Linked DNA regions of Homo sapiens: region 1 is linked to region 2. The links come from fine-mapping of genetic effects on gene expression. A gene starts in region 2. The other region holds a variant in brackets. All regions are shown on one strand. Distances are between the middles of the regions.

Region 1 (12,070 bases), 22 kb after region 2:
AGTTCCCATAGCTGTTAGAGTCTGGTTTGTTTTTGTTTTTACTCTCAAAATCATAGTAAAGATCTCTCAGTCTCCTGGCTAAAGATTGAAGGAAGGCAAATCTATTTCTAATTATACATATATCAGTAAGGATGATCTCAACATAATAGTAATGTGTATCTTTTGGTATCCAGTTTTATTTTTGGCCTTCTAAGAAAGTGTCTCATAACACAGAACATTGCCATTTGCTCTTGTAGGCCTCAAATATGAAAGCTATTAGTCATAGAGCCTAGGAAAAAAAGAATTGATTAATGGTCCTTTTATTTTGTAACCTTATAAATGCTGTAGATATTATCAAAAAAATTTTAATTTCATATTGTTTACATCATGCAACTAATCTAAGCCTCAAACTCGTTATTGGGGCTATAAAGAAAACGTTTACTTACCCAGCTGAAACAGGTTAAGAATATTCTTAATCTCATTATAGATAATTGCCCCCATGGGACTTGAAATACAACACCTTGTGCTGAAAACTTCAGGTTGGCAATATTTGAAGGTTTCGTTGTAGAAGAGTTTAACATTAACTCCTATTTTGACTTACAAATCTTGTTTCTCATCACTAAAATGCTTTTGAATTAATAATCCAACCCACATGAGCTGAGAGTTTTTCTTTTGTTAGAAAAGAAACAGACATCTTTCTGTATGAAAGTATAAATTGTATGGTTTTAGATACATAAGAATTGACAAAAGCGAGCGAAATCTTTGTACTTCTGAGTTCTTGCTGTATGTATGTTTTGTTTTAAATCTGATTAGGGACACCCAGCAGCTGGCCGGGATTCTTGGATTGCTCCTTGGGAGTTAAGATTGTCAATACTCCTGTGAAGCAAGGGATTTCAGCCATAGAACAAAGATTTATTGTTGCCACCTGAAAAGTTTACAAGTATTTATTGTGTATTTGATACATTGCTTGAAAAGATGAAATCTGTTAAAGATTCTTTTCGATGTCCAGGTTAAGAAGAAACCTCCTTGTATTGAGTGAAATTATATGTTAAATGTATTAGAGAATGTAGGTGGTATAGAAATTGATTTTTCTTGGTGTAGAACAACTCAGTTCGGCAAAGTTTAAAATTTGATTAAACAAGAGAAGTGGTTCAGGTTGAAGATGGACTTGTTAGGAAGTGATCAAGTCCTTTAAGTACTTGTTTCTTTTTCAGGTTGTGATGTGGCCATTCCGAATTTTGTTGAGAGTTTGGTTTATAATTGTCTCTTTTGTCTTGTTAGTAAACATTCATTTGCAACAGTTTTGAAGGTGCTGAGTGGAAAACCGAAACACATGGTTATTGCGTATTGGACCTAGAATGAAATAATTGCCTCAATATTTAACAACAAGCCATTCTTATCTCAAAGATTTAAATTCCCGAATGTCCCATTCGCAAATCATATGCAATTGAAGTGAGCAGCATGAGCATCTGGGTCATGAGGGCCTTCATTTACGTAAATTTGTCACTAAAACCCAGTAGTAGCTCTACAAAATCTTAAACTGCTGCAGTGCTCAAGGAGATGGAATATCTTTGTCATTGGTGCTGAGGAGAGCATTTCGGTAGAAGACAGTTGCGCCTGAAGATTGAGTGTAAATCATTCAAACCAGTGGTTCTCAGTGTTGGCTGTATACACTTTGTAGTCACTTTGGAATGTTGGAAGACACATCGATGCTTGGGTTCCGTATGCCAAGATTCTGATGTTGGTCTGGAATATGAGCTGGTCATAAGGATTTTTAAAAACTTTCTGGTCATTTCAATATGCTGCCAAGGTTGAGAACCACTGTTGTAAAATTCACCTTGAGTTTTCTCATCTGCAAAATAGAAAAAAAAAAATCCTTGCTCCCTCCCTTCACTACCTCACAAGGATATTGAGGGTAAAGGAGAAAATAATGGGAAAGTGCTTGTGCCGTGGATGAAAAGTGCTATTAAAAGTCAAAGGAGTGTTCTGTTTCAATTCATAGTATGATCAGGGAAAGTGTAACTGAGTATACTTTGTTGACTTGGGAAACCTGGAGCACTTTCTTTGGTTGGTTAACGAAGCATGCAGATGTGGAAGCAGACGTTACTATTATCCCTACTATGGTCTTCTGTCATACTGAGACAGGCTGTTTTAATTACCTGGTTTTACATAGGAAAGAAGAAATATTAAGGCTTAAAGTTTGTAATGATCAATGGCTCATAATTCATTAAATCTTTTCATACAAGGAATTTGTGGTTAATGTCATTTCATAGTTGCCATTATTTTCTCATTATTTGACTTAAATGTTAAGCCATTTATTTCATCTCCCTCATTCACATAAAGTGTAGATATGGATTCAATAAGACACCAAAAGAAAGTAAGATTTACCCAGTTAATATTTAAAATCATTGTTCAGTGATTAGGCATTTTCTGCCTTTTAGAATTATTTGACTGGAGAAAGAGTTTCAAAAATAGCAGAGCCCTAAACCATAAAGAAACTACTACTGTATAATGAACTTTTGTTTGTTTTTGGAGACAGGGTTTCACTCTACTGCCTAGGCAGGTCTTGAACTCCTGGGCTCAAGCAGTCTTCCTGCCTCAGCCTCCCAAGTAGCTGGGATTACAGGTGTATGCCACTATACCCAGCTTTAACTTTTAAATCCCCAAACTATGTAGATTGTCATATTAATATTAATTTTTTTTTGTTATTTTGAAGAAGTGAGTAATTTGAAGAGATAGAAACTTAGGGAGTGGTGTGTGTGTTTCTTTTTTGGAGACAGAGTCACGCAGGCTGGAGTGCACGATCTTGACTCACTGCAACCTTTGCCACCCAGGTTCAAGCAATTCTCGTGCCTCAGCCTCCCGAGTAGCATGTGCCACCACACCTGGCTAATTTTTTTCTTTTTTCTTTTAGACGGAGTCTTGCTCTGTTGCCCAGGCTGGAGTGCGGTGGTGTGATCTCAGTTCACTGCAACCTTTGCCTCCCGGGTTCAAGTGATTCTCCTGCCTCAGTCTCCCGAGTAGCTGGGATTACAGGCACCTGCCACCATGCCTGGCTAATTTTTGTATTTTTAATAGAGACGGGGTTTCACCATGTTGGCCAGGCTGGTCTCGAACTCCTGACCTTGTGATCCACCCACCTCAGCCTCCCAAAGTGCTGGGATTACAGGCATGAGCCACTGTTCCCGGGCCTAATCTTTGTATTTTTAGTAGAGGGGGTTTATGCCATGTTGGCCAGGCTGGTCTTGAACTCCTGGCCAACACCACCCACCTCGCCTCCCAAAGTGCTGGGGTTACAGGCGCGAGCCACCGTGCCAGGCCAGAAATTTAAGGAGTTTTAAAGGTTAGCATTGAAAAGATTACTTTCCAGAAATTGAGACCACCACAGTTCCACAATTGGGACTGTGGTAGATAATCAGGACCACTTGGAAGCCTTTATTAGGAACAGCCCACACCCAGCCCAAATGCTGTCCTCAAAAACATTCCTCAGTTTCTCTAGCTGAATGTAATCTCTCCTTGAAATTTCCCTAGTTTTATATATCTATAGTTGACTCATGCTGTATTTATTTATACCTTGTTTAAAATTATTTATTGATTATTTATTGGTGTCATATCGCCCCTAAACTGGGACAGGATCTCTAACGGACTCATCTTTGTGCCACAACATGTAAGCCCAATAGGCAGGTGCTCACATATTTGCTGAAGGAACAGAGAAAGAACTGCGGAGAAAGACAAAAGCTCCTCTGAAGTTTTAGACTATAGAAGCAAAAATTATAGTAGCAAAAGATGAATGAGAAATTCTGTTCTAGTCCCAGTGAAGCAGGAAGGAAAGGGTTGCAAACTTGAGGCTGGTAAGGAAGAAATAATTACTGTGAATGCATTTAGCCACTCCCCTCTACTCAAAAATACTGGTAAACTCTGATTTTTATATTTGTTTAGAATTTAAATTAGAATTCTGTATCTTTATTTTTTGGAATTCTGTTGTTTTGCCTTAGTTTCTTAATAAAAAGTTAAACATTAACCACCTGTGATTGCTTACATTTAAAGACATTTTTTACACATTGGTTAGAAAGAAAAATTGGGGTGCCTTAATAGCCAGAGGTGGTGATGGAATTTACCTATAAATTCCATGGCTTTAATAATAGAATCCACATTCCCCATGTTTAGAATGGAAAGTGGACAGAGAACAGTAATTCACTAGGGTCTTATTTCCCAATTGCCTCTACCGCCCCCCACCCCACCCTCCTGCTGACATTTGTTTGATAATGCAGTTGTTTGCCAAGAATTATGAGAGACAGGCATGCTATTCCTGAACTGGCTGAATACACGGCTCCTGTGATCCAAAAGCTTAAAAGAGAATCAGTTGATGATGTTGCTAAACAAGTTGGCTGATATGTTAAAGTTCAAAGCATTTTAATTTTTTTTTTTTTTTTTTTTTTTTTTTTTTTTTTTTTTTTTTTTTTGAGACAAAGTCTTGCTCTGTCACCCAGGCTGGAGAGCAGTTGATGTGCTCTCGGCTCATTGCAACCCCTGCCTCAGGTGATCCGTGTGCCTCGGCCTCCCAAAGTGCTGGGATTACAGGCATGAGCCACCGTGCCCAGCCCAAAGCATTTAAATTTTATAAAAGAAAAATAGGTGTAAATGTTCTGTATTTGCCGCTTTGTTTAGTGGAAAGAGACGCCAGAGACAGCTTTACCAGTCTGTTGTCCTGATTTCTTTTTTGGATCCTCCCTCGAACTGTTTGCTTCTTATTTAATGTGTTCACTAAAATACTGTTGAGAGCAACATGTTCTCTAGTCTTCAGAATAATAGTTTGCTGAAAGAAGTAGCCCTTTAAGATTTAAGATTGTTATTCAGCTTTTGTATGTAGGATTTCATGATGAGTGGCTCAAGAAGTAGGAATCATTTGGGGAGTTTCCTTAGGTCACCCTGTTGATAGTGTTTAATTTCTGTTTAAGGCAGGAAAACATTAAGAAAAGATTAGAGAAGTCAAGTCCTGTCTATGATATGATATGATACTTGTACACCATGTTATATTTCTGCCCCCTTTCCTGTATAAATAAAATGGGGATAAAATCAAGTAATGGTTTTGAGGTCATAGCTCCCTTAAGAAAGTCTCCCTGAAATAATGTATTAAAATTCTAGCGTCTCAAGTTAGATTCATTAGAGGCATATTGTAGTGGGAACAGACCAGATATCTTTGTTTATTTTAATATAGCTAACTTGTTCATATTCCCAACCCATGTTTAAAGAGCATATGATTGATCTGTGCCCCCTTGTTGGTCATCTTCACCTTGGAAGGAAAGGAGGCTTAAGGTTGCAATGAGAGTTGTTGATGACATCTCTAACCCCTCAGTAGGCCAAAGAGTGATGTAGTTCATGATCCAATTGCCCAGAA[T/C]AGCACGGACAGATGGTTACTTTGCTAAAAGACATGTTGGTAGCAAAGACACTGCTCTGAGCAGAGACTGGTGGCAAAGCCCAGCGCAATCCACCCTTCTGAGCACAGCCTACAGGAACTTCAGTGCCGACGGAGTCACGGAGGCCACTCTAGGTTTTACATGGCCATAGTTGAGCTTCTGAAATTTTGAAGGATCTCCCTGCCCACCCAGCTACTAGTCATCCACTTGGTAATGTAGACAGAATGAAAAAGGCAGGAAAGATCATTCATCAAATTATTTTCTAACATCCGTTATCTAGCAGGCTTTTACCAGGTACTAGAGATGGAAAGATGAGAAGGAAAAATCGAAGTTGCTGACAAGCTTCTGTGAAAGCAAATGTGGAAACAGACTACTGTGAAACTGAGGTAACTGCTTTAACGAAATTACAGGTGAGGTCCAGGGTGGCATAGGAGAGGGAATAGTTAACCTGGGGCGATGTTTAAGCTGAGCTTAGAAGATAGTAGGTGGGAGCTAATGAGGATAAATCCACTGTTCCAGGCAAGTGGGATAGGACGTGCTATGATACGGAGGCACAGATAGGTCCGCTATGTCTGGAACCATGCTGGACAAGTGGTGGGGGAGGGCATGGAACAGGGAAATTGCGTCTGGATTATAATTGCCATACCAAATAGTTTGGGTTTTGTCTATTTTTTCATGGGGGAAGCCATTCAAAAGTTTTCAGCAGGGGCATGATTAGCTACAAAAACCAATATCTGAAAGGTGGGAGTCAGGAGGTCTAGGCAGAAAATGATGAGGACCTAAACTAAGGTGACTAAAGATGGAGGAGGGATGTATTTAAGAGAATGCAGGAACACATGTGGACACCATTTGTATGTCAAGAGTGAGAAGCTTTTTGGTGCAGACATTTATAAGGTACTGCTTATTAAGAAAGGGTATTGAAAAGGAGGAATAGATTGGGAGGTGAGGGGCCGAGCGCAGTGGCTCACATCTGTCATCCCAGCACTTTGGGAGGCTGAGGTGGGCAGATCACCTGAGGCCAGGAGTTCGAGACCAGCCTGGCCAACGTGGTGAAACCCCGCCTCTACTAAAAATACAAAAATTAGTCGGTTGTGGTGGCAGGTGCCTGTAATCCCAGCTACTCGGGAGGCTGAGGCAGGAGAATGGCGGGAACCCAGGAGGCGGAGCTTGCAGTGAGCCGAGATCGCGCCATTGCACTCCAGCCTGGGTGACAGAGCGAGACTCTGTCTCAAAAAAAAAGATTGGGGGGTGAGGGTAACGAGTGCGGTTTTGAACATGTTAAATCGGAGGTGGAAATACAGAAAAGGCAGTTGGAACTAGTGAGCCTGGAGTTAAGGAGATCGGCAGCCAGCTGGATGAGAGAGCTGCTGGTGTGCCGCGTTCCTCACTGGCCGTACGGGCTCCACAGCCCAGCGGGTAGAGCGAGGGAGGCGGGCCTGCAATACCCCCAAAGGACAACCAACTGCCTTCTAAACCGTGACTCTGCCAACTAAAGGCTGCGGGGGTGTTTTGTTGTTTCGGGATTTTTCTTTTCCTTACATACCCCACACCTCTGAATAACAATCCTAGCAGTTCAATTTTTTTTTTTTTTCTTGGAGACAGAGTCTCGCTCTGTCGCCCAGGCTGGAGTGCGGTGGTGTGATCTCGGCTCACTGCAACCTCCGCCTCCCGGGTTCCAGCCATTCTCCTGCCTCAGCCTCCCGAGTAGCTGGGATTACAGGCGCCCGCCACCACGCCCGGCTAATTTTTGTATTTTTAGGAGAGATGGAGTTTCACCGTGTTAGCCAGGATGGTCTTGATCTCTTGACCTCGTGATCTGCCCGCCTCGGCCTCCCAAAGTGCTGGGATTACAGGCGTGAGCCACCGCGCCCAGCCTCAGTTCAAAATTTTTAGGTGCCTCTTTTTAATTTTGGGAGAAGCTCAGCAATGTTCTATCATTTTGGTCTTGAGGCAAGACCACTGGATCAACAGCACAGGACTCATGCGGTCTAAGTCCTGGGGGCGCTGCTGGTCACGACGCGATTCCGGAGCAGATGTCTTCCTTCCTGGGGCTGTTGCTGAGGCTGACCTAGCTCAATGCTTCTCATTTTGGGATGCCCACTAGAATCACCTGGGGAGTTTTTTATTTCTTTAAATTAGCTTTATTGAGATAATAACTGACATCAAACAAGCTATACCTATTTACCAGTGCACAATTTGATAAGCTTTGATGTATGTATATATCCATCACAATCAAGATAGCCTATATGTGGGAAGCTTTTAAAAGATAAGATGCAGCCGGGCGCGGTGGCTCACGCCTGTAATCCCAGCACTTTGGGAGGCCGAGGCAGGCGGATCACCTGAGGTCGGGAGTTCGAGACCAGCCTGACCAGCATGGAGAAACCCCGTCTCTACTAAAAATACAAAAATTAGCCGGGTGTGGTGGCGCGTGCCTGTTATCCCAGCTACTCGGGAGACTGAGGCAGGAGAATCATTTGAACTCGGGAGGGGGAGGTTGCAGTGAGCTGAGATCCAGCCATTGCACTCCAGCCTGGGCAACAAGAGCAAAACTCCTTCTCAAATAAATAAATAAGATGCCCTAGCAAATTAAATTCCATGGAGTAGTAGAGTGGAGTTTTGTTTGTTTGTTTTTGTTGTTGGTTTTTTTTGAGACAGAGTCTCACTCTCTCCCAGGCTGGAGTGCAGTGGCCCGATCTCGGCTCACTGCAAGCTCCGCCTCCCGAGTTCACGCCATTCTCCTGCCTCAGCCTCCCAAGTAGCTGGGACTACAGGCGCCCGCCACCACGCCCAGCTAATTTTTTGCATTTTTAATAGAGACGGGGTTTCACCGTGTTAACCAGGATGGTCTCAATCTCCTCATCTCGTGATCCACCCCCCTCGGCCTCCCAAAGTGCTGGGATTACAGGTGTGAGCCAACGCACCCAGCCTTTTGTTTGTTTTTAAGTCTCCAGGTACTTCTCCCCTGAACTAGGAGACCACCATTCAGGAATGACATTTGAGCAGCCTCAAGTGGAGGCAAAAATCTCTGGTTTATTTTATGTTACGATTTGATTATTTTATTTTATTTTATTTATTTTATTTTTTGAGACGGAGTCTCACTCTGTTGCCTAGGCTGGAATACAGTGGCGCGATCTTGGCTCACTGGAACCTTTGCCTCCTGGCTGCAAGCGACTCTCCTGCCTCAGCCTCTTGAGTAGCTGGGATTACAGGCAAGTGCCACCATGCCCAGCTAAATTTTGTATTTTTAGTAGAGACGGGGTTTCACCATGTTGGTCAGGCTGGTCTCGAACTCCTGACCTTGTGATCCACCCGCCTGGGCCTCCCAAAGTGCAGGGATTACAGACGTGAGCCACCGTGCCAGGCAAAAATCTCTGGTTTATAACCAGGAAAATTGTATGAGAAAAAAGAGCTCTAGCTCTAGAGACCAAGAGCAAGGTGATGGCAGTGCCAGAGTGAGCACCTAAGGCAAGACTGTCTCTTCTGTGGGTCTTTCTATGGCCCTTAGTGAGCTAAAGTGAGGCTGTCATTTAAAAGAGGTTCTAGCCCGGGTGCGGTGGCTCACGCCTGCCATCCCAGCACTTTGGGAGGCCAAGGCGGACAGATTATGAGATCAGGAGTTCAAGATCAGGCTGGCGAACATGGTGAAACCCCAGCTCTACTAATAATACAAAAATTAGCTGGGTGTGGTGGTGGGTGCCTGTAATCCCAGCTACTCGGGAGGCTGAGGCAGGAGAATCGCTTGAACCCAGGAGGCAGAGGTTGCAGTGAGTCAAGATGGTGCCACTGCACTCCAGCCTGGGCCACACAGTGAGACTCCGTCTCAGGAAAAAAAAAAAAAAAAAAAAAAAGAGGTGTCCTTATCAGGATTCTTTCAGGAATTAGTGCTTTGGTCCTTCCTATATCGGAGTGGCAATGACATTTGGGTGCCTAACCAAAGCTGAGCAGCTGCACCTGTGGTTTGTCACATCTTAAAATCAAACTTCTTATCTCTGATAAAAGGAGATATAATGATTGAAAATTGCTACAGGAAAGAAACAATAAAACCTAATGTCATGGGCTGAGTTGCATCCCCTTGAAAATTTATATGTTGAAATCCTCCAGTACCGCAGAATGTGACCTTATTTGTAAATGGGGTCATCTCAGATGTTACTAGTTAAGATGAGGTCATACCAGAAAAGACTGGGTCCCTAATTTAAGATAACTGGTATCCTTATGAAAAAGAGATTTAGACGCAGACATGCACACAGGGAGGATCCCATGTGAAGATGAAGGCAGCGATCAGGGCCATCCAGCAGATGCCAAGTGCCAAAAACTGCCAGCAAACCAACAGAAACCGGGCAGCGGCGCGAAGCAGATTCTTCCGCACCACCCTCAGAGGAAACCAGCCCTGCTGACACCTTCATCTCAGACTTCTAGCCTCCAGGACTGTGGGACGATACTTTTTTCTTTTTTTTTTTTTGAGACGGAGTCTCGCTCTGTCGCCCAGGCTGGAGTGCAGTAGTGCAATCTTGGCTCACTGCAAGCTCCGCCTCCCGGGTTCAAGCAATTCTCCTGTCCCAGCCTCCTGAGTAGCGGGGGTTACAGGCGCCCACCACCATGCCCGGCTAATTTTTGTATTTTTAGTAGAGACGCGGTTTCACCATATTGGTCAGGCTCGTCTTGAACTCCTGACCTTAGGTGATCCCCCTGCCTCGGCCTCCCAAAGTGCTGGGATTACAGGCGGGAGCCACTGCGCCCGGCAAGGGACGATACATTTTTGTCGTTGAAGCCACCAACTTTGTGGTACTTTGCTGTGGCAACCCTAGGAAACACACCTTTTAATTTTTCTCTCTACCAATTCTATTTCTTTCTGGAGGCAACTTTGATTTTGTGTTTGGTTGTTCGCCGGAACCATGGGAAAGGCCAGGAACAGTTTTAAGGTGTTAAGGTTTGTTGGAAGGTCTTTGTCAGGTTGCATTCGTAACCCAGTGTTTGTAAAGTACTTAGTGTAGTGGTTAGGGGCATGGATTCTGGGGTCATGAATTCAAACCCACGTTCTACCACTTACTAGTTCTGTGACCCTGGGTGGGACATTTGATCCCTCCAAGCCTCAGTTCCCTTATCTGTAAAATGGGGGGCGGGGGGAATCGTGCTACTTACTTTAAAAGGTGATGTGAGCATTACATGAAACGCACATTGAGCCACTTAGAACAGTGCCAGGAGTGTAGTAAGTATTCACTGTATTTCTCATTATTATTACTGAACTGTTCTATAATAGGTAAGTATCATTAGGAGCCAACCATGGAAGAAAAGCAATTTTAGTCACTAAAAAAAAAAAAATTGTGGTGAAATATAAAACATTCCATTCATCTGGTTCTAAAATTAAGAATAGGAAACATTTTAAAATAGGAAATGTTTTAAAATTTAGGAAACATTTAAAAATATTCAAAGCAACAGAACCTGAGGTAGTACAAGCAAAATAAGTTTATTTTAGAGATACAGGGCTGGCTCCCAGAGATCAATAGCAGGAATGCCTTGTTTTTCATGAGGAAGTTGGACAAAGCAATGGAAAGCCATCAGGAGCCTGGGAATACCACCTCTTCCTTATTCCCGAGACATTTCTTCATTCTTTCCCCAAACTTCCTCTTCTACATAGTCCACGTTGTGAAAAATGGCCACCCACACTTCTCCCCTCCATCCAAGAGATCACCTCGGGGTCTCAGATAGACTCCAATTCCTACTACTGGTCCAATCAGCTATGGCCATGGGATGGGGAGTGGGCTCACACGGTACCTAGGATGCCACTGGGGTCTCAGCCCTACGACTCTGTGGCTGGGGGATGAGGGGGAGGGAAGTCATAAAGAAGAGAGAATGGGTACTGCAGGAAGACACTAATAAACATGCTTCCTCCCACCCCCAAAGTTTGGCCATATGAGGAATAGCACATTTGAGGACTCCCCAGAAGAAAAACGACAAAGGAGGCTGAAAGGAGTGAAGAGGAAAAAAGATACAGAGGGGAGAGCAAGGTAACCCCATCAAGTACTGGAGACTCACAGCAAGACAGCCACCCAGAGGGGGAGCACAGCGTCTCGGTGTAAGACTCAGGGTGGTGCCTTGCCCAGCCTCTGCCCTGAGAAGCAACAGACACTACCTGCGCTGTCAGGGGCTGTGTCTGAGCAGGAGCTGGTTTGCTAAATCAAGGGCAAGAAGAGAAAGCTCAGGTCTTTTGGGTCTTGAAGAAACTGTACTTCTTACCTCGTCCTTCTCTTCTCTGTTTTAAGGGAGAGACTAAAGAATGGTGAGGTTTGAAACTCAGAGGAAAACCAGCTTGGTGATCTGTTTTTTGTTTAGCTGACACGAAATCATTCACACCCAGCAGCTCACTGCCTGCTTATTTTAAGCATGAAAAATGAGGGTAATAAGTTTCTCCCTCTCTTGTGGGAATTATGTTCATATCTTTCACTGGACTCCTTTCCTACACACCCAGAGCTTAATTTTGGTTACTTTTGGAATACTAAAATGAACTGAGGGTCCCAGCCTGGAAGGGAGTTTGGTGATGAGGTGAAATGAAGTATTTTAGGGCAAGGATGGCAACGGAATTCAAATCCTCTGCCGTGACACCCAAGTGAAATGCTCTGCTTCTCACAGAGTGACACTTAGAGCTGTGGGTTTTGAGACAGATAGAAAGGGATCTC
Region 2 (12,070 bases):
ACTAGTAAGTCATCAGTGCTTGAAAATGTACTCACATATGTTTAATCATATTATCATCTACCTGCACTTACACAACAGTGTAAAATTTAGATTTCTCATCCTCTAGGAATCCCAGATATACACACACTGGAAATGCCACATAATACCGGCCTGCCGTGCCCGCCTGCTGGTCAAGGCAAAAAGGAAATCAGGGCAATTTATACAACTCTAATCTTGGTCAAGACAAAAGGAAGCAAATAAATCTACCTGGACAAATTTAATTTTTCATTTCATAAGCGAAAGGAGAGCTTACCCGAGTGCCAGCCCCCAGAGCTGTTGTGCTATTTTCAGATAAGATACTTGAATTTAGCCCAGTGGTACAGAGATAAAATCATTTAAAATAATCTGGCAATCTGCCCAAAGTTTCCATTCCCAACACAAAGCTTTTTTTTTTTTTTGAGACGGAGTCTTGCTCTGTCGCCCAGGTTGGAGTGCAATGGCACAATCTCAGCTCTCTGCAACCTCTGCCTCCTATGTTTAAGCGATTCTCCTGCCTCAGCCTCCCAAGTAGCTGAGATTATAGACGCCTGCCACCACGCCAGGCTAACTTTTCCATTTTTAGTAGAGACAGGGTTTCACCATGTTGGCCAGGCTGGTCTTGAACTTCTGACCTTACATGATCCACCCACTTCAGCCTCCCAAAGTGCTGGGATTATAGGCGTGCGTCACCGCACCCAGCCTCCCCCTACTTTTAGTCACACATACGATCACTAATTAGACTGCAAAAAAATCACTGATCTATTAGTAATCAAGGTAACGGAAACGTGATCACAAAATCAAATACAGAAATGTTCATAAAAATAACAAAATAAAAAACAAAATTAAACTTTTGTTTTCAAGCAGAAGCACTCAACTAATATACAGAGGAAACTAACTGGAGACTGAAGCAATAATATTTAAAGGAGAGAATTGGAGAGGAAATGACTCAGAGGGAGGTAAAAACAGGGAGCCCTGGTGGTTTGATTTTTGCTGACAAGTACTGAAACAGCAGCAGGTAAATATGCCGTAACGAAGACTGTTGCCAAAAGTTCCAGATAAACCTAGATTTTAAACGAAAGGCACTGATAGTATTTAGGCTTAGGAACTGTAATACTGACTTACCTCATGATAAAGATGCTATCCTACAAATTTGAATTGAGTATTGAAAAGTCAATTTAAGTTACAAATAATTTTGTTTAACGATTTCAATTTTTTTTCTTTTTTCTTTTTTTTTTTTTTTTGAGACAGGGTCTTGCTCTGTCATGCAGGCCTTGACCTCCCCAGGCTCAAGTGATCCTCCCGCCTTAGCCTCCTGAGTAGCTGGAACTACAGGCTCTCACCACCAAACCCACCTAATTTTTTGTATTTTTTTTGTAGAGATGAGGTTTCCCCACATTCCCCAGGCTGTTCTTGAACTCCTGGGCTCAAGTGATCCTCCCGTCTCAGCCTCTCAAAGTGCTGGCATCACAGGCATGAGCCACTGCACCCAGCCAATGCTTTCAAATCTTTAGAATGTCGATCACTTTTTTGCCAAGTTATAGTTTTAATTTTGCTATGATGAATCAACTTTGAAGTCAGGAAGTCTGTACTCTAGAGCATTAAGATTTGCTGATATTTGTGTGCATACAGGTTTTGGATCCCAGCTGGGATTTTAGGTTTTCTCTGAAACAAGAATGAGGCAAGGTTTCTAGTGCTCCTGTTTCTCCATTACAAATCTACCCACAGGAGAGCCAAATAAATGCTGACTGACAGACAAAAGTTTTAGCAGGTTTTCTTCCTAATTTAATTCTTTTCTAGAAAAGATTAACTCAATCTTCAAGGTTCATTCAGTTAAGTTTTGCTCCGAAGTGTGAGAAGACAGGCAATAAACGAATTTTGTCCTTAAAGGGATTATTATAAAGACTACAGTTCCTATAAATTTTTCCACAGTGGAACCAGTAGTAACTCTTGTTCTATTAGTCTCACAAGACCCCAAGAACACTTTCATCTTATTAAACTCTACACACTAAACTCCTACTCTCTAAATCACATAGATAATATTTACTGATCATTTATCTAGTCAGAAAAATAAATAACTGTTACTGGGAATGTTAAAAAAAAAAAAAAGGCAGGGGCCAGGGGAGGCTGGGCGTGGTGGCTCACGCCTGCAATCCTAGCACTTTGGGAGGCTGAGGAGGGCGGATCACTTGAGGTCAGGAGTTCAAGACCACCCTGGCCAAGATGGAGAAACCCTGTCTCTACTAAAAATACAAAAATTAGCAGGGTGTGGTGGTACGTGCCTGTAATCCCAGCTACTCGGGAGGCTGAGGGCTTGAACCTGGGAGGTGGAGGTTGCAGTGGTGAACTGAGATTGTGCCACTGCACTCCAGCCTGGGTGAGAGTCGGGGTGAGGGGGCAGGGGGGAGTTTGGAAAGCCCCAGAAACAGAAATCCATAAACTCTGAGGCTATTAATTTTAGTCAATCAAGATTTATTATGCAAACTATTGATCAGCGATTCAACTAGAGCCTCCAAAATTGTTTACTTAGTCTATAAAACTAAAATGATTTGTTATTATTTGAAACACACCAAAGAACACTATGAAAAAGTTAATCAGATTGCTGTGATAGAAGGGTAGTGGGAAAAAATGTAATTAAAGTTGGGTTAAATCAAAACAATTTTTCAGAAATGAGTTGGCAAGCCACTGTTTCTTGCTTTTCTATGACTGCAACTGGAAAGCCTGGCAGAAAGAGGTGAAGTGTCACCATCCCCACATTCACGTATCAAGTCAACAAGCTTCTCTTTTCCTATGGAGTTGCCTAAAGCGTTAAGCACAGCAGTTAATCATATCCTACTGTAAATTACTTTAATTAGATAATAGATCACTTCCTTCTAATACCTAAAGAAATCACACAGAGTGGGTGAGGGAAAGGTGAGTTTTTTCTTGTGTTTTTTTTTTGAGACAGTATCTCCCTCTGTTACCCATACTGGAGTGTAGTGGCCCAATCTCTGCTCACTGCAACTTCCACCTTCGGGGCTCAAGTAATCCTCCCACCTCAGTCTCCCAAGTAGCTGGGATTACAGGCATGCACCACCACGCCCAGCTAATTATCTTATTTTTTGTAGAGACAGGATTTCACCATGTTGCCCAAGCTGGTCTAACTCCTGAGCTCAAGCAATCCACCCACCTCGGCCTCCCAAAGTGCTGGGATTACAGGCATGAGCCACTGTGCCCTGCCAGGTGAGTTATTTTGAGAGCATTTTTTTCTTTTTTTTTTTTTTGAGACAGAGTTTCGCTCTCGTCGCCCAGGCTGGAGTGCAATGGTGCAATCTCGGCTCACTGCAACCTCCGTCTCCCAGGTTCAAGCGATTCTTGTGCCTCAGCCTCCTGAGTAGCTGGAACTACAGGCATGCACCACCACGCCCGGTTAATTTTTGTATGTTTGGTAGAGATGGGGTTTCACCATGTTGGCCAGGCTGGTCTCAAACTCCTGACTGCAGGTGATCCGCCCGCTTCGGCCTCCCAAAGTGCTGGGATTCCAGGCGTGAGCCACGGCACCCGGCCGAGAGCATTTTTTAAAAGGGTGAAGTGCCACAGCCGGCAGTTCTCATCAGCCAGAGCGCAGAATGAGAGTACTGAACATGGGGAAGGGGCTTGGTGGGGTGGGTGATGAGCAGGTGAAAGATTTGTAAAAAAGAAAAGGAGGGGTTGAGAAGGGTAATCTTACTTTGAAATTCTACCTGGGGCGCTCAGGAGACGGTCTGCCGTTGAAAGTCACCTCAGCGGCTGGACTAGATTAGTAAGAATGACAACATCGCATCCTTCAAAGGCTCTGCCTCGGCTGCACTGAGACACGATAAAGGCCAGTCTTTAAAAACTGAGTGATCTCTAAACACTCTGCACTAGTCATACCACCACCGTCCCGTTCAAGAGTCTGTGCCTCTAAGGCTGTTCATTCTGTCTAGTTCATGATCCCTTTCTCAGATGGATCAACTCTGCTTATCCTTGAAGACTTCAAAGAAATTAGTGAGAGACAGTCACCATCACCAGAGTCAGCACAGGTCAACTTTTCTCTACAGGCTTGGGGTTTCTGAAGTTGGACTTGATGTGGAGAAGCTGGATAGCAACCAAAATGATTGAAGGGCTGTGGCGCTGGCACTGGTAAGAATGAAAAGAATTAGGGTTACTGGACTTGGTGAAAAAGACATGAGGAGAAGGGACAGGCAAATAATAATCAAACACCATGAATCAGAGGGTAGGGAAGGTAGCCACCGTTCCTTTGCTTTTACTAGAGACTAAGAAATGGATTATACATAGCAAGAAGCTTCAGAAAAGATTTCTTACTACATAAAGGTTCCAAGACATTGGAGTTGACCAAGGGAGTCTGTGAACCCTATTATTTTAATTACTCAGCTCATGGAGTTGTTTTGAGGATTACGTATATAAAAATCTGCGTAAATGACGTAGTATACAGTGCCTGGTTCACACCGTGGCTCAAATGATGGTTATTATTATTCTCTTACTAAGCATGCTTTAAAGGCTGTCGGAAAACTTTGGGGCCACCTAGGAAATCGTAGTATAATCAAATAATGCTGAAATTCTTGTGTGTGTGTGTGTGTGTGTGTGTGTGTGTGTGTGAGGTAGGGGCTCACTCTGTCGCCCAGGCTGGAGCACAGCAGGGCGATTACGGTTCACCTCAGCCTCGACCTCCCGGGCTCAGCCTCCCAAGTAGCTGGGACCAGAGGCGCACGCCACCACCCTCGGCTAATTTTTCTATTTTTTTGTAGCGACACTGCCTCGCAATGTTGCCCAAGCTGGGATGCTGAAATTCTTCCCCTTCCAAGAATCCATCTATAATTATAGCCTCCACGTCATTCTCCCTATTGGAATGTTTAATTGACTAAAACTACATTGCCTTCATCTGCTTACTAAGCGGTGGATCCAGTAAAGACCACATCTTGTCCAAAAGACGGCAGCACTTAATTAGCGCTCAAATGGCACTCGAACGTTTGGGCGAGGGGGTGTTCAGTCGCAGCCACCTTACTTTGCGAAGGCACACAGGGACAGACGTTCGCTAAGTGCCGATACTTAGGGAGAACGAGAGGGCCTGACCAGGTAAAGACGGCCTCCGCTGCCCAAGCTACACAAAAAGGTTGGGGAGCCAGGACCCGGCAAGCAAGGAGAGAAAAGTTTCATGCGTTGAGCTGGAGTCTGAAGCAAGGACCTAACGGACACAGGGAAACGTCACAGGAAAGGGAGCCCAGGAGAGCAGACGCGGAGCCACCAGACCAGAAAAAGGAAAAAGCACTGGAAAACAGCATCGAAGTCACCGGAAAGCAGCATCGAAGCCACCGGCGCCAGCCTCATACCTGCGCTTCCCGCTCCCCTCCTCGGCGCCTAGTGATAACCTCACCCGCCGGCGCCCAATCCCGTCGAGCGTCAGGCGTGAGGCGGCGCAGCCAAACAGTCACATCCGGGGCCGAGAGGAACCGCGAACGAGCTGGGCGTGCGCCCTTGCTTCGTGCCCTCAACCCGCATGGCGGAGCCGCTGGCGCGCCGCGGAGAGGCCGGGCGAGTCGGGCGGTTTCGGCGCCCGCGCTGAGCCGCGGAGGAGGGGCGGAGGACGCCCCTGCAGCCGGTGCGTCTGCCCTCAGTGAGGCGGGGCGCGCGGCGGACGCCCCCGGGCAGGGGCGGGAGTGGTGGAGGCGCCGGCGGTTGGCACTGACAGGGGCGGTGAGCGAGCCGCTCCGGTCTCCGGGCGAGGCTTGGCCTTCCGAGCAGAGACGGCGGGAAGCGGCGGCGGCAGCGGCGGCCCTAGGGCCGGCTGGTGAGGCGATGGCGGCGCCGGCCCCGGGGGCTGGGGCAGCCTCGGGCGGCGCTGGCTGTAGCGGCGGCGGCGCGGGCGCGGGCGCGGGCTCGGGCTCTGGGGCCGCGGGGGCCGGGGGCCGGCTGCCCAGCCGGGTGCTGGAGTTGGTGTTCTCTTACCTGGAGCTGTCCGAGCTGCGGAGCTGCGCCCTGGTGTGCAAGCACTGGTACCGCTGCCTGCACGGCGATGAGAACAGCGAGGTGTGGCGGAGCCTGTGCGCCCGCAGCCTGGCAGAAGAGGCTCTGCGCACGGACATCCTGTGCAACCTGCCCAGCTACAAGGCCAAGGTGAGAGAGCCCCGGGCCACACCGCTGCCCCCAGTCCCGCTCCCCGGCGTCGTTCGCGGTGTTTCTCATCCGAGCTTCTGAGTCAGAAGCTTCGCCTCACCAGCCCGCCTTTCCACGGCTCCAGTCAGTATCTTCCTCACCTCCCCCCAAGATAAAGATTCTCTTTTCTTTGGATCGAAGTTCTGCTCCTTAACCCATCCCACTTCCGTGATCCACTTTTCAAACAACTAGGTAGTTTGCCTCACTCATTCAACTTTTGACAGTTTTCCCCGTTAAAGACAGACCACCACTCTTGTACCTTTTAATGCCCTCATCCTACTTTTCTCCCCGGCCTCCAGATAGACTTCATTATATTAAATAATCCCGGCCACCTTAACATGGGCTTAGTTTCTAAGTTTCTAAGTTTCTAGTTTGCTTTCACTCCACGTTTATCTCATCTTTTCCAAGCTCTGATTTTTAACCATTTGTTTTCATTATTTTCCCCCAAGTTCTCTTTAGTTCCCTCCACTATATTGGAGGCTTACAAGTGAGTGTAGTTCTAGTCATCCTGCTCACTTACAAGATACAGGCTTTTATAGAACGTCCACGGGCACCACCTAACATACTGCTTTGTCCTGCTGTTATTGGCTGTTTCCTTGCTAACTTTTTAATAGTTCCACATTGATGGTGTCTCTCTTTTTCTATTTGTCATCTAACGTGCTGATTACAGTTTCGCTGCATCCTTCCTGCATATTCCGCCCGCCTTCATATACAAAATAAAAATGTCAAGGAACAAGTTGTGGTACGGCTGAAAGGACTCTCAGGCCGAATAAACAAAGGGTCTTGGTCTTGAGTTGAGTTGAATGGTTAACAGCTATTCAGTATAGCAGTCAATCAAGATCATATATAAGAGAAGATAAAGTCTGATTGCAATGTGTTAAACATAATGAATGCATTAGTAACTAAAACGATAACATCCCCCCCTTTTTTTTTTTTTTTGAGACGGAGTGCAATGGCGTGATCTCGGCTCACCGCAACCTCCGCCTTCCAGGTTCAAGCAATTGTCTTGCCTCAGCCTCCCGAGTAGCTGGGATTACAGGCATGCGCCACCATGCCCGGCTAATTTTGTATTTTTAGTAGAGTTGTGGTTTCTTCTTGTTGGTTAGGCTGGCCTCGAACTCCCGACCTCAGGTGATCCGCCCTCCTCGGCCTCCCAGAGTGCTGGGATTAGAGGCGTGAGCCACCGCGCGATAACACCCCCTTTTTAATGCTAGCTTGCCAACAGGGGTCGGAGTAAGAAGTAAAAATTTTTTTTTCATGTGAAGCATGTAAAATTTATACTTATGTAGTAAAACCGGTTTTAGTTATAGAAGATAGGGAACATTGCCATTAAATATGTAAACTATCAAGTTGTTTCTCTTTTCTTTTTTCTTTTTTTTTTTTTTTTTGAGACGGAGTCTCGCTCTGTCACCCAGGCTGGAGTGCAGTGGCGGGATCTCAGCTCACTGCAACCTCCGCCTCCCGGGTTCACGCCATTCTCCTGCCTCAGCCTCCTGAGTAGCTGGGATTACAGGCGCCCGCCACCACGCCCGGCTAATTTTTTGTACTTTCAGTAGAGACAGGGTTTCACCGTGTTAACCAGCATGGTCTCAATCTCCTGACCTCGTGATCCGTCGCCTTGGCCTCCCAAAGTGCTGGGATTACAGGCGTGAGCTCATGCGCCCGGCCTCAAGTTGTTTTTCTATTAAGCGAAATAACAATAATTTACTAGGACTGTTTGTGCGTGGTGGCTATTCAGTGGATACTGGTTGTAATTTATATAGGTGAGTACAGACGATTGGAATTTTGTCCTACTTTGATAAATGTGTCGGTTTCATAAATTTTATTTAGTTTTTATTTTTCTGTAAAGTTTATTGTTTTTACTTATTTTAAACTAGGAGTTTTTGTTGTTGTTTTTGAGACAACAAAACAACAAAACTCTGTCGCCCAGGCTGCAGTGCAGTGGCACAATCATAGCTCACTGCATCCTCGACCTCCTGAGCTCAAGGGATCCTCCTTAGCTTAGCCTCCCGAGTAGCTGGCACTTCAGTCATGTGCCACCACACTGGCTAATTTTTTATTTTTTAGAGACACGGGGTCTCACCTTGTTGCCTAAGCTGGTCTCAAACTCCTGGACTCAAGCGATCTTCTTGCCTCAGCCTCCCAAAGTGCTGGGGTTACAGGCATTAGCCACTGCACCCAGCCTAAATTAGGAGTTGTTGTTTTGATAATTGACTTGTAATAGAAATGTTCACATGATTCAAGATTCATATTATAATATGTAATAGATAATGTGTTCGTGTGAGTCAAGCTTCAATAGAAGCAAAATGATATCAAGCAAAATGTTTTCCTTTCATCCTTGTCGCTCAGCTACCCGGTTCCTCTCCATGTATGCAACCTGTCTTACTTTTTCTTTTGTATCCTTCCAGAGATATTTTAGGTTTCTGAGGTTTTTAATACTTTGCTTTTCTGCTATGTGCATTATAGATGTTGTAGACTTGTACCAATCACTGTTCATTCACACATTGTAGGACTTCCCTTGAATATTTTGAGGATAAAAGATTAATTCAAAAGGAGTCAAATAGTCTAGTAGGAAATCTTTCAGTCTAGTAGAGGAGAGAAAAATGTATAGAAAGAACTGCTAATGTGTGGTAGAAATTGCTCCTTACTGTTACAGACATAAAAAAGTATACTAGAAGTTCAGTGAAAGGAGGAATTTACAAACTGAGTGGAGGATTGGAGGAGATTTGAGGTTGAGCTTATATTTGAGCTGAATTTTAAAGATGAGGAGGAGTTTAGTATTTTAGGAAGAGGAAGTACTCTGAGCAGAAGCAGGACAAGAGGAAAGTAAAGGGTTTGTACAACATATATTTTTATTTAAAAAAATGAGTGCCAGGCACTATGCTCATTTGCAGATGCAATGGCAAATAAAACAAACACAGTCTCTTAATGGATGTCTTGCCTTATGGAGCTTACAGTCTAGTAGGGGAAATGGATATTAATCAAATAATCACACAGATGTAAAACCGCATCTGGTAAGTAGTATGAAGGAAAAATACCTAGTGCTCTGATTGTCAGTAGTGGAGGATTTAACCTGGTGGAGAGGTGAGGGAAGGCTTTCTCAGATCCATGTACTGAGACCTGAAGGATGATAAGTAGGCAAAGGGGAGAGAGAACAGCCTTCCAGGAGGGAACCTTATGAGTGTGAGGGATGGAAAATATGTCAATGTGGCTGGAGCACAGAGAGCAAAGGTGATGCTGGTTTGAGATAAGATGGAAGAAGTGGACTGGGACCAAAGCGTAGGGAAGCCATTTTGAGTTGTAAGCAAGAAGGATTTGAGGTGTGGGGATTGGTGATATGATTATTTTGCATTTTAAGAGATTATTTCTGACTTTAGTATGGAGAACTAAATTGTTGGTTGGAAGAGGACCTTAGAAATATGGTAGATCAATTAGGAAATAGGTAGTGGAGGAGATAGAAATGGGCAGATTTAGTAAGTAAAATCTATAGAATTGGCAATAGATTTGAAATAGGGATGAGGAAGAGGGAAGTGGTAAGGATGACTCCTAGTATTTGGCTCACATAATGTAGAGATCAGTTGATCTAGATTTTTTTTTTGAGATGAGGTCTTGCTCTGTTGCCCTGGCTGGAGTGCAGTGGAATGATCATAGCTCACTGCAGCCTTGAACTCCTGGGCTCAAGCGATCCTCCCACTTCAGCCTTCTGTGTGGCTGGGACTACAGGCATGTGCCACCATGCCCAGCTAATTTTTATTATTATTTTTTTTTGTAGAGATGTCTCATTATGTTGCCCAGGCTGGTGGGCTAGGTTTCGAAGAAATGGCAGTGAGTTCAGTTTTGGGAGAGCAGCATTTACAGTATTTTTGAGACAGAGATTTCCAATAGGCAGCTGTTGGAGGTTGGAGCTTAGAGGAGAGATCTGCGCTAAAGATATAAAATAATATAGTTAGATTGAATGAAAGGAAGTAGTGGGAAATATTATAAAGCTATATTATGGGACTAGATATATCATGGAGGGCTTTGAAATATAGCCTTCAGTCTATAGTTTGGGTTTTGTACTACAGTTGTAAACCATAGAAGTTTGAACAGCAGAGTGACAAAGGCTCTACTTCAAAAAGACTAGGCCATAGATGAGTTGGAGAGGGCAGCGGTTAGTGCCTATACCAGAGATACTTAAGACTGGAACAGGTACATCGAGGAGAGAAGGGGATGGCTGGAGAGCTGTCGTAGAAAACAATATACATAGGTAGACAGCTGACTGGGTGAATGGGATGAGGAAGATGGATGTGTCAAATGGATTTTCCCAGGAGCCTGGATAACAGAGAATGATAGGAAAAGGTTTAGGGATAGCATAGAACAGGAAAGTGGAGTTTATTAATCTGTTCAGTTGTTTTTTTTTTAAGTTCATATTTTACATATCACCCCGTAGCATTAATTATTTAAGTCATACTTGGCATCTGATGAGAATTCTCTAAAGTTCAGACTTAGATTTTAAGCTAGGTCTTCATGCTGCTTTTGCCATAACAAAATTCAGGTTGTGCATGGGAATGTGAGGCTATGGGTTGTTTTTAATTTATTAATTTGGTCTTTATTTTCCTTTTTTTTTTTTTTTTTGAGACAGAGTCTTGCTCTGTTGCCCAGGCTGGAGCGCAGTGGCACAATTTCAGCTCACTGCAACCTCTGCTTCCTGGGTTCAAGTGATTCTGCCTCAGCCTCCCAAGTAGCTTGGATTACAGGAGCCTGCCACTACGTCCAGCTAATTTTTGTATTTTTAGTAGAGACAGGCTTTCACCATGTTGGCCAGGACGGTCTCGATTTCTTGACCTCGTGATCCGCCTGCCTCGGCCTCCTGAAGTGCTGGGATTATAGGTGTGAGCCACCATGCCCGGCCTATTTTCCCATTTCATATGAAGTTTCCAGTATCTGTTTCTAAAAAGTAAAGACACTTAATGTAATCACAATATGGTTATCACATCTAAATATAAATGTACATTAATTCCTTAATATCAAAAATGCAGTGTTCAAATTGCCAGTTGTCTCATAAATGTTAAATGTTGCATTTTAAAGTTATATTTTATATAATCAAGATCTATATAAGGGTCCCATGGCAAAGGTTGATATGTCTCTTAAGGCTATTTTAGTCTACATATTCACTCACCATCTCCCCAACCTCCCACCTTATTTGTTGAGGAAACAAGGTGGTTTACTCTCAGCTCGATTTTGCGGATTTCATTATCATCGTGTTGCTTGACATGTTCTTCTGTCCTCTATTTCCTACTGAGGTGTGATCAATTTAGATTAGATTAGATTTTTTTTGCAAGTTATTTTGTACTAGACTCAGTGGTTAAAAGTGTGTTAGAAAATAAGAGCTGCTAAATTGTTACGTGGCACAGAAAGTGGTGGGCAAGCACCCGGCAGAGAGAGACATCAAGGGAATTGGGTGGCCCTGGTTAAGAATAGCTTAATAGAGGTGATCTTAGAGAATGTGTGGGAGAAGAAAGCACATATAATACTTTCAGCAAGAAGAACATCATCAAGGTAGAAAGGGAAATAGGAAGAATCAGATTTGGAGGGCTGTGAAAGCCAGGCAGAAGAATTTGCAGTTGGTGATGCTACTAAGTATGGAACTACCAGAGGTTATAGAACTGGGATGAGATATGTAGTAAAGGTGCTGTTTTAGAAAGACAGGTTTGGAAATAATTCAGATAGAGAGTTGAGGACTGAGTTTGGAGAATTTGGTTGGGGCAGAGGAAGGGTGGTCACCAAAAAAGGAAATGATACAGGATCAGTTCAGGGAAATAGGAAGATGTCATAGAAGTTTGAGGAAGAGAGGGCCGGGCGTGGTGGCTCACGCCTGTAATCCCAGCACTTGCGGAGGCCA

Evidence for each region. PIP is the estimated chance that this variant, and not a neighbour inherited with it, causes the effect.
Region 1: its variant is fine-mapped to the expression of FBXO45 in skeletal muscle (GTEx, PIP above 0.99). The same link has a PIP of 0.9 or more in cerebellar hemisphere and cerebellum.

What each region holds. Positions count from the first base shown.
Region 1 is chr3:196,585,060-196,597,129 of GRCh38, forward strand. FBXO45 (F-box protein 45) reads left to right here. Exons shown (of 3, transcript NM_001105573.2): 3 at 1-4,000. Among named protein-coding and RNA genes, the nearest start is that of FBXO45, 22 kb to the left of the region's middle. The variant T/C (reference allele first, on the strand shown) is at 5,378.
Region 2 is chr3:196,563,153-196,575,222 of GRCh38, forward strand. It overlaps FBXO45 (F-box protein 45), which reads left to right and starts at 5,508. Exons shown (of 3, transcript NM_001105573.2): 1 at 5,508-6,150. The coding sequence starts at 5,833. It overlaps WDR53 (WD repeat domain 53), which reads right to left and starts at 5,402. Exons shown (of 4, transcript NM_182627.3): 1 at 5,367-5,402; 2 at 3,725-4,155. RefSeq lists enhancers at 1-1,173, 3,544-4,743, 6,761-7,309, 7,310-7,857 and silencers at 5,465-6,004, 6,126-6,420.